Regions from separate parts of the Homo sapiens genome. Here regions 2 and 3 are each linked to region 1. Evidence: fine-mapped expression QTL. A gene starts in region 1. Each other region holds a variant in brackets. All regions are shown on one strand. Distances are between the middles of the regions.

The links. PIP is the estimated chance that this variant, and not a neighbour inherited with it, causes the effect.
Region 2: its variant is the best candidate, but not a certain one, in a credible set for the expression of VCAM1 in whole blood (TOPMed, PIP 0.85).
Region 3: its variant is the best candidate, but not a certain one, in a credible set for the expression of VCAM1 in monocytes after interferon gamma (Fairfax 2014, PIP 0.90).

Annotation. Positions count from the first base shown.
Region 1 is chr1:100,717,826-100,722,070 of GRCh38, reverse strand. It overlaps VCAM1 (vascular cell adhesion molecule 1), which reads right to left and starts at 2,329. Exons shown (of 9, transcript NM_001078.4): 1 at 2,147-2,329; 2 at 1,320-1,595. The coding sequence starts at 2,210.
Region 2 is chr1:100,743,881-100,748,125 of GRCh38, reverse strand. No RefSeq gene overlaps it. Among named protein-coding and RNA genes, the nearest start is that of VCAM1, 26 kb to the right of the region's middle. RefSeq lists enhancers at 1,931-1,980, 2,071-2,160. The variant T/A (reference allele first, on the strand shown) is at 1,818.
Region 3 is chr1:100,622,182-100,626,426 of GRCh38, reverse strand. No RefSeq gene overlaps it. Among named protein-coding and RNA genes, the nearest start is that of LINC01349, 23 kb to the left of the region's middle. RefSeq lists a silencer at 3,548-3,846. The variant G/CTGTGTGTCTGTGTGTG (reference allele first, on the strand shown) is at 2,469.

The DNA of each region.
Region 1 (4,245 bases):
AGAACTGTTATACATAATGAGAAACAGACACTCTTGGAGAAAAACCTCAGGCAAGATAATTAAAACCAGAAGCGTCTTCATTTCTCTTTCTTAAATCTTCAACTATTTGGTACTAGTGGGCAAAAGACAAAGGAGCTGGAAATTCTTTCCTATGTGAAGAAACATGGTATTTTTCATTTTTCCAGCAATAATTTCTGTCCCTCATATTCTGTAAGAAATGTTCCTCTAATCCACACAGTTCGATGTCAGGTAACATAAGAACTTGCTACTTTTCCCTGTATTTACATAAGGGAAGCTTTCAAGGAGCTCGGGAGGCTGCACAGACATAAACTATGCACATACAACCAGCATAATTGAAAGCAGCCGGCCAAGCACAGTTTCTTGGGAAGCTTGAGCAACACATGCGGTTTGTTGCAGAATCAATTAAGGTTACTGGGAAAAGTTGAGCTCCGGTACAATAAAACGAAACCAAAGTAATTATAATCAAATGAGGTCTTCATGAAGACATGACCGTAAATGGGTTCAGTTTTTTAGAAAGAGAGGCCATCAGTAACAAAAGGCAAATGATTTATGTCTGGTTAGTTTTTTACTCCTCTTGCTAACTTTGTTTGCTGAATGGAGAATGGAGTGGGATGCATTTTGTCAGGCTGGTAAACTAGGGACATCCACTCACTTTCATGAGGCAAATCTAGTTCATTATATAAATATCTTTGAAGTTGAGCGGTTGAGCACCAAGGCTTCATGGCACCAAAAAAACCAAAAAAAAATCCTAAATGTGTCAACACCAAAGTCAAATGATTGAAATGTTTCCAGATATTAACAATTATGTCTAAGAAGAACACTTTTATACTAATACATATTACTAATTATAGATCTACTTAATGTTTAAACTAATTTTAAGCATCAAATTGCATAAGAATAAATGAATAGAAAATCCCTGAAGGATGGAATTCATAAATCAATCAGACACATAAGCAAGTAAACATGTAAGGATGTAATCAAATGGAAATATTTTTTAATAAAACAAAAAGAAACTTAGAAATGATCATTTTACAGCTAAGGAAACCAGAGCCCAGAGAGGTTGAGTCTTATACATGGTCACTGTGTTTGTGGCAGAGGTAGAAATAGAAGCCAAGATTTGGATTCCTGCTCTCTCTCATGTTGGCCTTAGCTGTCCCTAGCTTTCCTGATGTTGTATGTTCTTTAGCCAAGAATCTGTACATGAATATCCATTTTAAAACTTTTTTTAAAATATCATTTTTAAAAAGTGATTTTAAAGTAAAATTGAGAGAAAAACAAAGATTTTCTAAAGCACTCACAGTAGATCTCCACCTGGATTCCTTTTTCCAATTTCCTAGATTCACAAGTTGCTGTGCACAGGTAAGAGTGTTCGTTCCCAAAACTAACAGGATTCATTGTCAGCGTAGATGTGGTCCCCTCATTCGTCACCTTCCCATTCAGTGGACTATCTATCTGGGTTCTCCAAGAGAAAAATGGGGACTCACAGCCTGTGGTGCTGCAAGTCAATGAGACGGAGTCACCAATCTGAGCAAGATATCTAGATTCTGGGGTGGTCTCGATTTTAAAAGCTTGAGCTGCAAAAGCAAAAAAAGACAGAAGCAAATTTACCACTAGTTTGTCTAGTATTCTCCTCCTTCTTCTCTGTATAATGTCTAAAATATGATCAGACTGATCTCTTTCCTAAGCTGCTTCAAACTAACTGCAAGGTAGCCAAAAAGCACCGAAGTCACTGCCAAAAAAGTTTATGGAATCATCTTCAGTAGAGAGAATTCTCAGTTCCAACCTTGATGCCCATTTATCAAAGCTGTTTTGTTATTTGCTAAGTTTGACCTCATTGTCAAGTATAGGAAACTAAAGAGACAGACCGACTAGAGACAGAATCCAAATTACTCAATTGCCTTTGGAAAAAAAGATACCAAAAACATCAATTTTCAGCTCTAACTATGACAGTACAATGGTATATAGCAAAACTCAATTGCATATTAAAAGTTAGACTAAATTAACTTTTCCTACTGTTTAAAATCCTAGTGTCTTTACTTCACTACTATCGCAAAACTGACTGAAGCCAAAACCAGGGCTAAAATTGAATGCTAACATTTGAAACAGATGAAGGGAAATAACTTACAAGCTGCAAACATTATCCAAAGTATATTTGAGGCTCCAAGGATCACGACCATCTTCCCAGGCATTTTAAGTTGCTGTCGTGATGAGAAAATAGTGGTTCCAAAACCCTTATTTGTGTCCCACCTGTGTGTGCCTGGGAGGGTATTCAGCTCCTGAAGCCAGTGAGGCCCGATGCAGATACCGCGGAGTGAAATAGAAAGTCTGTGCTTTATAAAGGGTCTTGTTGCAGAGGCGGAGGGAAATCCCTTCAAGGGGAAACCCAGGGCAGAGCCAGGGAAAAAAGTTTAACAGACACCCAGCCAAGTTCCACTATTAACCCCTTCAGTTGCTCTCACTGCTGAAGCTCCTCTCTCTGTCCTGGCAAAAGAAGACACTTCCAAGACTATAAAATACAGGCTTTTCCTCATCTTCGACTCCAAAAGGCTATCTTTACTGGAAAGATAAAGGACAATGCTGATTGCAGAATGAAGCTTTCTGAATCCAATGTGGGTTAAGGGGGTGGGGAGAGAAAAAATGGAGACAGAGTAGTAAATTCTACTCTGGTTTTTGAACTGGATAAATAACGACTATGCCATGTGAATTGATTTTCTCCATCAAGGAAATATGTTTGCAATTCTAAAAGAGATTAATTTTTTTCTCTTACAAGAGAAAGGAAAAAGTTATTTCTTTTGATGAGTCATTTTTTAAAAAAGGGACACCATAACTTCTTAGTTTTATATTTATTCATAAAAATAGTTCTTTTAGCAACAAACATCAACTTTTTGAAACTATTTTCTTGAGTAGAAAGTAAAGGACTGTAACTGAAATTGCTGCCAAAACAAGGGAAACAATTTTTTTTTGTTTTAGAAAAGTTACCAATAATTTGGTTAAATTGCTGGATAATTGGAATTTTTTTGCATACTTAAATGCAAGTGTATGGAATCCATCTGAAGTGGCAAATCTCTTGGGCTGTGAGATTTAACCGCAAACCCAGTTAAAAAATTAAAAATAATAGGTTTTTATTATAGGCAAGGGGACAATAACCAACTCTATGTTCCTTTTCCCCCCAGTGAAGTGCCTTTTTAAAAAAATCCCAATTAACTAACTGGCTTAGCCTTGCACACACATAGCCCAAGGCCTTGCAAAATGCTTGCCCATCAAAAAGAAACCGGAATAGCCACTTCCTTTTATTAAACACGTGCAGGTCTATCTCCCCCATTGGATCATCAGTTCCTCTCATGGTCAGGACCAGTTCTTGTTCATTGTTGTATCTACTTCTACAATATCTAATGCATGATTTTCCACTTAGTGGATACAAAAAATGCAATAATAAACGTTATACATTTGGAGAAGAAAATTCTAAATACTAGCAATAATATGTAAATACGGCATGAAAAAACTGTTAAATTCTACAAGAAAATTCTAAAGCTCAGAGACTCAATGGGATGTGTACAATAAACTTGTACTATATAACATTTGTACTCTGTAACAAAGGCCATAGCTGAGGTCTGGAATCTATAACTGTCCCTACCTGGTTGGAGAGGCTTCTGGATCTCCTCTTGGATACTGATGTGGCTCCCACTAAAAGACAAGGAGGGAAAAATAAGTTGGAGATGCTGTTCTAGGGTGTGGGGATATATAGGTATGACTTCACCTACCAAATATCTAGGGATCAGAAAAATTGATTCAGGAAATACTAGCTTATAAACAAGTAACCCAGAGGTCCTTTACAGTGTTTGTGTCATCATCATGTAAATTCACTACTTAACTTCAGAATAGATCAAAAGGGTATTATGGAGTTTTAATATGTTCCTTTGAGGCTCAAAGACAATGGCCAATAGGATCCTTGGGATCATTATGACCAAGCTATGTTGTTCTGAGTTTGGATATGATTCGAAGCTTGCAACATTGGAGAAATGCCTAATCTATTCATTTAACTCATAGTGGTCTTGGCAAATGTTTGATCAAGTCCCTCACTATATCTTTGAGTTGGATGACATCTGAAGTCCTACCTGCTCCTCCCAGGTTGAGAGGATTGCACCCTCCTCGGTGGCCTCACTACAACAAGTGCATATTGATGGAGCATTTATCATTCTGCATTTACTGATTAATATGCCTATA
Region 2 (4,245 bases), 26 kb before region 1:
GCCCGCCTTACCCACAAAATCAATGTCGTCTCCTCATTCTTCTTCTTTTCAAGACTGAAACATTGCCTTTGCAATGTTTTACTGCTCCATAATGCCCCCAAAGTCCCTTTCAATGAGAAAAGAACTAAAAACAATAAAATGCTCTCTCCTGATAGCATTGTTCTTCACTAAAAAACCCAGACATTTGGTTCCATTCAATTTGTTATACTCTTCTCAAGCAAGCCTTGCAGATTAGCCCCTTTTGAGAGAAACCATGCTCTTCAATAGCAGCAAAGCCTGAAAAGCCAGGGCACACTTTTTTTTTTCTTTTTTTTTTTTTTCAGAAGTGAAATTTTCACTATCATTGTGACTAAAACAAAAGCTTTTCCCAAGAGCATTACAAATGTTCCTTTTCTCTCTGCAGGGAAGCCTGGCCATTATGAATCCATAGCAGAAATTACTTGTTAGTGTTAGGATTAGTTTAAATATTTTATTTTTCTCCTCAAGACTCCATTGAAGTTGATTAAGCAAAGGATACAAAAAAGATTCCCTAGGCCTCTGTTTGGCTAAATGTAAGAAAACTTTATCTAAAATAAAGTGAGGGGAAAAAGTTACCCATTGGAAGGGATCTTAAAGTTTATCTGGCCAAAACTCTTAATTTTACACAAAAGAAAACTGAAGCTCCTTAATATATAAGATGATTGACCCCAGTTATTGCCTTCCCCAGTAATTTTAGTGGTCACTTTGATTGGTACTAGCATATTCCCCAAATCTGCAATTAGCAGAGCAAAAGAGACATTTCTGAGGATTCAATATGGGAAACAGACTTTAAAAAATTTCTTTGTTAGATCATTATTTGAACATGCATTTCCTCAAGAAATGTTTGTGAGCCTGTATAGACTTTTCTTTATTTGTAAGCAATCTTGATTTCTGTCTGATAATTTTCCTACATTATTCATCCAGAGCAGAAAAGGTGATGGTGATGGTTACATGATGTAGACTGCCATGAATTTTTTCAACCTGTTATTTAGTCATGGTTTGACTACCACAAAATCAGAATAAGAGATTGCAAGTTTCCCATAAATTCAGAAAATATTCTAGCAGCTGAGAACCAATACTATCAAAAGTCTACAGTGAGATTTGAATCCATTTCTAAGAAAACCAGACAATGAAATCTATGAGGTTACTAAAAGTTTACTGATATAATATTATAATATTATGAAAGTGCTAGTGTATCTCCACTGAAATCAACCATTTACTTCCTTCCCAGTAGAATATTGGACAAATAAATGAGATAGTTTCATATTCCGATTTATAAACAATATCTGCTGCAGAGGGAAAGCCCTGGCAAGTATCTTCTATGCTTCACTTTAATGGCAGTCAGCCAGAGAAGGTGATTGCATCCAACAGCAATCACTCCCACTTCAGAGACCAGGAGAGTCAGGGAAAAAAGTTTTCTTCTTCCCCAAAGTTGTCAGCTACCATCCAGGTCTAAGACTTGCCTGCCTTCCTTTACCCATCTCATTTCTGTGACGTCCCTTTAAAGGCTCGCTTTCTTTCTTTCCCTCCCTTCCTTCCTTCCTCCCTCCCTCTTTCTTTCTCTTTCTTTCCTTCTTTCTTTCTTTCTTTCTTTCTTTCTCTTTCTTTCCTTCTTTTCTTTCCTTTTTCTTTCTTTCTAGACAGGGTCTCACTCTGTCACCCAGGCTGAAGTGCAGTGGTGTGATCACAGCTTACCACAGCCTCGACTTCCTGGGCTCATGTGGTTCTCCCACCTCAGCCTCTTGGGTAGCTGCGAGTACAGGTATGAGCCATCACTCCTTGCAAATTTTTTGGTACTT[T/A]TTGGTAGAGATGGGGTTTCGTCATGTTGCCCAGGCTGGTCTCAAACGCCTGGGCTCAAGTGATCTGCCTGCCTTGGCCTCCTAAAGTGCTGAGATTACAGGTGGTGAGCCACCGCGCCCAGCCTAAAGCCCCTCCTAACCAAAATCAGCAAGAATAAAGAATCTAACCCTGTCCTTAAGGGGACTTTATAGTGCCCTGGGTTATTGACAAGGGCTAGGACTCAGCAAAACTTCAGGTCATGTACAGCATCTTACTCGAAAATGAAAAGGGTTTATAGGCAGCTGTTTACTAGGCATCCATCTCTAGGCAGTGATGAGCACAGCTGACTTGGCTTCCCTGCAAAGATGTGATGGTTTCTAGTGTAAGGCAAGTATGGTCTCTCTGAATGCCTTGGCTCAGCTTGCAGGAGTCTTCCTCGTGTTTGCCATTCTCTCTGTGTTGAAATCTCTCCTTTATCTGAGGCCTCTCTATGCCACGTTATCCCTTTGAACACAAGTTATACTGTCTCCTATAAAGTCTTATCACATAACTCTCCTTCTCATTACCCAGGATAGATGAAAAGTGGGAGGGAGGTGGGCAAGGTAATTTGCTTCTCTCTTTGCTCTCTTTCCAATGCATACACTCTAATCCCCCCATCCGTCTAGGCTCTTGATTTTCAAGAATTTGCCTATGAAATGTAAATTTTTATTAAAAATTCCACCACCCAGATCAAGCAACAGAACAAAAACAGAACCCAAAAGGAGCTCTTCTACTCCTTCTAGTCACTGTAACCAAAGGAGTAACTAATATCCTGACTTTTAACACCATGTATTAGTTTTGCCTGCTTTTGAGCTACATATAAATGAAATTATATAGTATGGTCTCTTTTACCAATTGTTTCTTTTACTTCTTTTTGTGAGAGTCACCCATGTTGTTGTATGTAGTCATAGTTCAAGAAACTACCTTTGAAGTCTAAAAAGAGTTCATTAACTGTTCTATTTGCATTTTTTGTACCGATCTGAAATCTTCCATAGCAATGTGGATATTTGTGGTAAAGAGGGGACAGATTGGAAAAGTCAAAGAAATAAAAGAACAAAACTTAACATTTCCAGATCTTATTGTCAAAAAAGGTACAATTTTTAAAATACTAGTTTAATGTATTTGGGGATATATCCACAGTATACATAATTCTATTTTATGTATTAAATGTGTATATATGATATCATAGATTCTTTTTTTTTTTTTTTTTGAGACGGAGTCTCGTTCTGTCACCCAGCCTGGATTGTAGTGACACGATCTCAGCTCACTACAAGCTCTGCCTCCCGGGTTCACGCCATTCTTCCGCCTCAGCCTCCTGAGTAGCTGGGACTACAAGCGCCCGCCACCACGCCCAGATAATTTTGTTTTTGTATTTTTAGTAGAGACGGGGTTTCACCGTGTTAGCCAGGATGGTCTCGATCTTCTGACCTCGTGATCTGCCCGCCTTGGCTTCCCAAAGTGCGGGGATTACAGGTGTAAGCCACCGCACCTGGCGATTCTTTTTAAATATTTTATTTTTTACAGCTTTATAGAGGTATGATTGATATATAATAAACAGCACATACTAAACTATACGATTTGATGTCTGACATATGTGAAATCCATGAAACTATCACCACAATTAGTATTATAAAATATCCATCATTCAAAAATTTTCTTTGTGCTCCTTTGCAATTTATCCCTCGCTACCTCCCATCCTGCCCCAAAGCAACCACTGATCTGTTGCCTTTTGTTACTCCGGATTAGTTTGTAGGTGGGCTTCATTTAATCAGTTGAAGTCCTGATATTAAAAAAAGGCCCTCGTTTTCCATTTTCAGGAAGAATTTATGTAAGATTGGTAATATTTCATCTTTAAATGTTTGGTAGAATTCACCAATGAAGTCACCTGGGCCTGGAGTTTTCTTTTGAGACCACACATTTAACTTCTTTATTAGATATAGAGCTATTCACATTGTCTATTCCATTTCAATGAGCTTTGATAATTTGTTTCTTTCAAGGAATCTGTCCATTGTTGTCAAATTTATTGGCATAAACTTGTTTATAATTTTCTTATTTTCCTGCAAATGTCTACATGATCTGGAGTGATGTGTTCTCTCTCATTCCCAATATCAGTCTGGCTAGAGGTTTATGAATTTTGCTATTTTTCTCAAATAACCAGTTTTGGGTTTTATTGAATCACTGTTTGCCTGTTTATTATTTTTAATGTTATCTTTAAATTTTCCTTTTCCCTGATTACTTTGAGTTTTATTTTATCTCCTTTCTCTAGTTTCCTATGTACAACTATAGATCATTGATTTGAGACCTTGTTTACAATGTAGACATTTAGTGCTATACATTACACTCTAAGCATTGCTTTAGCTGTATATCACAGATTTTTAATGGGATGTGTTCCCCCTTTCCTTTAGATCA
Region 3 (4,245 bases), 96 kb after region 1:
AGAACTATGTCACAATCATATTTGATTCCCTATAGCTAAGTACAGTTTCTGTCGCAGGATTGAACCTCAATGATACTTAATAACAGTAATATTATTTTGATAGATAAAAATAACATTTTTAAGAAATAGTACCTGCATATAGCAAGTTGGCTTTCCCGGGATATTTACTCGTTCCCTGGTTGCATTACCCAAGCGAGGATGAAAAGTTTATTTCTTAATGAATGTCCCATCAACTTAGTCTAAGCAAAAATTCTATGAGAGAGATTTGTTTACTCTAAGGAAATCATTTTAACTCTTTCAGAAAGTGCCTTCTTCTGGTGTCCCTAAAAGATCTCTAATTTACCAAGTGAATTAAAAAATGTATTTTCTCTTAAACTCTAAGATTAGAAACATTACTTTATCCCCCAGCTTTTTTCTCAACCCTGTTGAAACAGCTTTCTCTGTTGCCATTCAGGGGTTGGTTTCAGCCAGAAAGTTACTTCTCATTTTTAGAATGCAGGGCACGTTTAAATAAGGATCGTTATCATTAATATTTATGAAGTGCTCAAAATGTGCCATGATTTTTATCCATTATCTCATTTAACTCTTAAATAATTTAACTCAATTAAGATGTTATTATCTCACAGGATCCCTTTGGCATAGGGAATATTATTATTCTTATAATATAGTTAAGGAGACTGAGTCTTCAAGGCACCATGTGGCTTTCCCAAGGTCACATAGCTAGAAAGTAGCAGAGTGAGATTTGATCCTAAGTCTCTCTGAATTTGAGACTTAACAACTACACCATAAAGTTTCACTCACTATAGATGGTGGCAGATGAACCTCATCATCAGTGAGGTCATCAGTGGAAGACAGTCCCCGTTTCCTTTTGAATACCTGAAGGATCAAGCTATGGACTGAGATGACAAAAGGCCTAACTCATCCACTTGCTCATCCATACACCCAATCTGTGATTATGGAAATGCTTTTAACGTCAACATTTTCTGTTTATAGTATGTACAATTAGATTAAAGTTGAGTGTTTGGCAATTTATGCTCAGTGTGAACAACAAATCCAAATGCACTAGGCTAAGAAGCAGAATCACATTCGCACAATAAAATGTAAACAAGAAACACAAGAGAGTCAGAGAGTCATATTCAGAGAGGGTGGGCTTGTTATTGTTTTTTGTTTTTTATTTAGAACCTGCTGATTAAAAAAAAGACCCAGATGCACAGGATCTCTGACTAAACAATTGCTGTGTGGTAGCGGGAGGTCTGGGTGGCTCATTCATCACAGCACGGAAGGCACCCTCTCAAGAACATGTAAACGGGATGAAGAGCTCTCCCGGAATGTTACAGCAAACATGTGCCAGCCCTCTTTGTTCTCTGTCTAGGGTCATTTCACTTGTAATGATTCATCTTAATCTTTCAGGTTCTGGAAAGCATAGGATACATCAGGCAGGAGGTACCCCATTTCTAAGCCTAGAGCGGAGAAGAAATCCTTTCTGGATGACCACACCATGGGGTTGAAAAAGCAGAGCAGAGTCCACAGTTCTGCGTAGATTATTTATTCAAAAAATCCCCAATAACTAACAGAGCAGAAACTGGATTTAGGAATCTAAATTAAAACTTATTTTGATGACCTTTGAGAAAGATACTTCAAAACAAAGATTTATTGCAAGTGTTAGCTTCTTTGCTCCTTGAAATAACATTCATTACTTCAGATTAAACACTGCTTGCTATTTAGTCTTCAGTTCTACAGCCATATTTCCGGAATACGTTTTCTGTTTTTGCCACAGATTTTGGTCTGATTTTCAATGAAAAAGGAATTTAATGGGTCATGTGTCTTTAGAATTCTTCTTGTAGCTTATTCTAAGTTTCTCATATCCCGTCTCCTAGTCTGTCTGAACTATTTGCCCACCATAGTGAGTGATACATAGTTTCAAAACATCTAATCTAGATACTGCTCAATTTAAGGCAGAGATTTCCAGATAAGAAGCCATTTGGCCTCGATATAGGGATCAAGACTATGGCTTTCCTATCAGTAACATTATACCCTTCTGCAACAAGCACTAAATTTAACAAGTGACTGAGGCATTTAAAAAGAATATAATATTGCAACAAATTTATACTATATATAACCCCACAGAAAGAAGATCCATAAAATACCTAGGAAGTTATAGCACAAAGTAAACAATACACGAAAATTTTACTCAAATGTTGGTTCTGCCATTCAGCCGTTCATTCATGCATTCAGCAAGTATTTATTGAATGGCTGCTACATGCTAGCCAATATAATGGTGAACAAAACAGATATATCCCTGCAGTCACAGAAGTTACAATGTAGCAGGCAGGAGGGATACAGAGAAGTTAAACAGAAATCATAATACCTTGTAATAAATGCTATCATAATGGAGAAATTATAGTGTGCTGTTGGTACCTCAATGGAAGGACAACGCAGTGTGTGTGTGTGTGTGTGTGTGTGTGTGT[G/CTGTGTGTCTGTGTGTG]TGTGTGTGTCTGTGTGTCTGTTTGTAGGCTGGTGGTCAAAAAGGGCTTCTCATTCATGTTTATGAGTTTTAATTAGATAAATGATATAGGGGTAGTGGTGGGAAGACAAGGAACCAGCATGTACAAAGACCCAAAGATGAAAAGGAACATAACATTAACTCCGCAGTGTTTCAACAGTCTTCTAACATTTCACTCTTATTCTCTGTGACAGAAGCAGTGCCACAATCAAGGCCTTGGGTGAGACTGTGCCTGGAGTTGCCGAAAGCCTTTGCCCATAAAAGTTGCTTTTCTCTGTTAATAATTGTTCAGTGGTTTGAATCTGTCATTTATTGCACCCCCACTTAAAATGTGACCGACTTGCAGACAGGGAGCATAGCTCATTGTATTTCCCACAACCCAGCATAGCATTCTATATACATTGGAAGCTTAAGAAACGTTAGTGCTAAACAAATAGATAAATGGTAAAAAATGGTCAGCAACCAAACTGGAACTCCCGGAATTTTCAAGGGAGTAGCAATGTTTATCCAACAAGTTTTTCAGCTAATGTTACTTAAGTTTCAACTTTAAGAGCTTAGTCACAAAGATTCTCATTAGGTAATACCTTGGCAATTCAAATAATCACTGCCCCTCTGACTTGAGCTAGTTGACTTGGTTAAGGCCAAAATCTGAAGCTTCAAGTCCCATGGAAGGTTAGTTACCTTCAAGGAGAGAAAGAAGATCTGTTCATAGTCCTGCCCATCAGTCTGACCCTGAACTCTGGTGGGGCTAAGGGAAATAGCATTGCATAGTCTGTAGCCCATACGATGGGCTAGGCACTTACCTAGGGATGTTGATATGAAGATAAATAAGCAGTTCCTGCCCCCTAAGGAGGCTCTGGCACACAGTAGCTTCTCAAGAAATGCTTCTTGAGAAACTGAGTGAATACAGCCTCACATATTTAGGCAAATCACTTATAAAATATATTACAGTTTTGTTTTTATATGTGGGACTCCTTCCTGGACTATAGAAATGTTTGTATCCTATGGATTCTTTGTAGTCTCTGCAAAAAGCTAATTCCTCCTCTGAGGTTAAAGGAATCCTTACCATTGTTTTTGAAGACAGTAAGAGCTGCAGTAGCTGAAGCAGTAGCACTGAAGTGGGGATTTTCAGCTACTGAAGGGGCCTCAGTCCCACTCAATGGATACTGCAGCATAAGCCTCTGTTCCAATATTACCCTACCCTGGGAACAGCTGTTGGAACAAAAGAATTGCTCTGAGAGTCAGCGTGAGCAGTATCCCTAAATAAGTGTAGTCATCCTTTATAAGTAGCAGGTCTCCACTCCTGCCCTTAAATTGTCCAACTCCAATGCTAATAGTCACTAAGGAGAGTGCAGCACAGGCCCTGAAAGGAGCCACCAAGGACATTATTTCATGATGCAGAGGACAAATGTATGCTTTCTCCAAAACCTGGAAAATCAAGTTTATGTATGTCATGTTTATTCAAACACACTTGAAATAAGGTCTCCCTCTCCTCTGGCAAGGACACTTTCAGATCTGAGGGAGTGAAGTTCTTTTACCCACCCCAACAATACTGGTCAGAACTCTGACTTTTGAGTTCCTTGAGTCATGAGCAGGCTGTTCACTTCCAGGGCACTTTCCTCAGGCTTCTTTGGCATGAATTGAGGTCAGGTTACAGCTGTCTCCTGGGTGATAAAAGCTGCTTGGCTTCTCACACTTTTGGATGAATCATTGGAGTTTCCCAGAGAAATGCAGAGGGTACTGCCACCCCTCAGTGAGT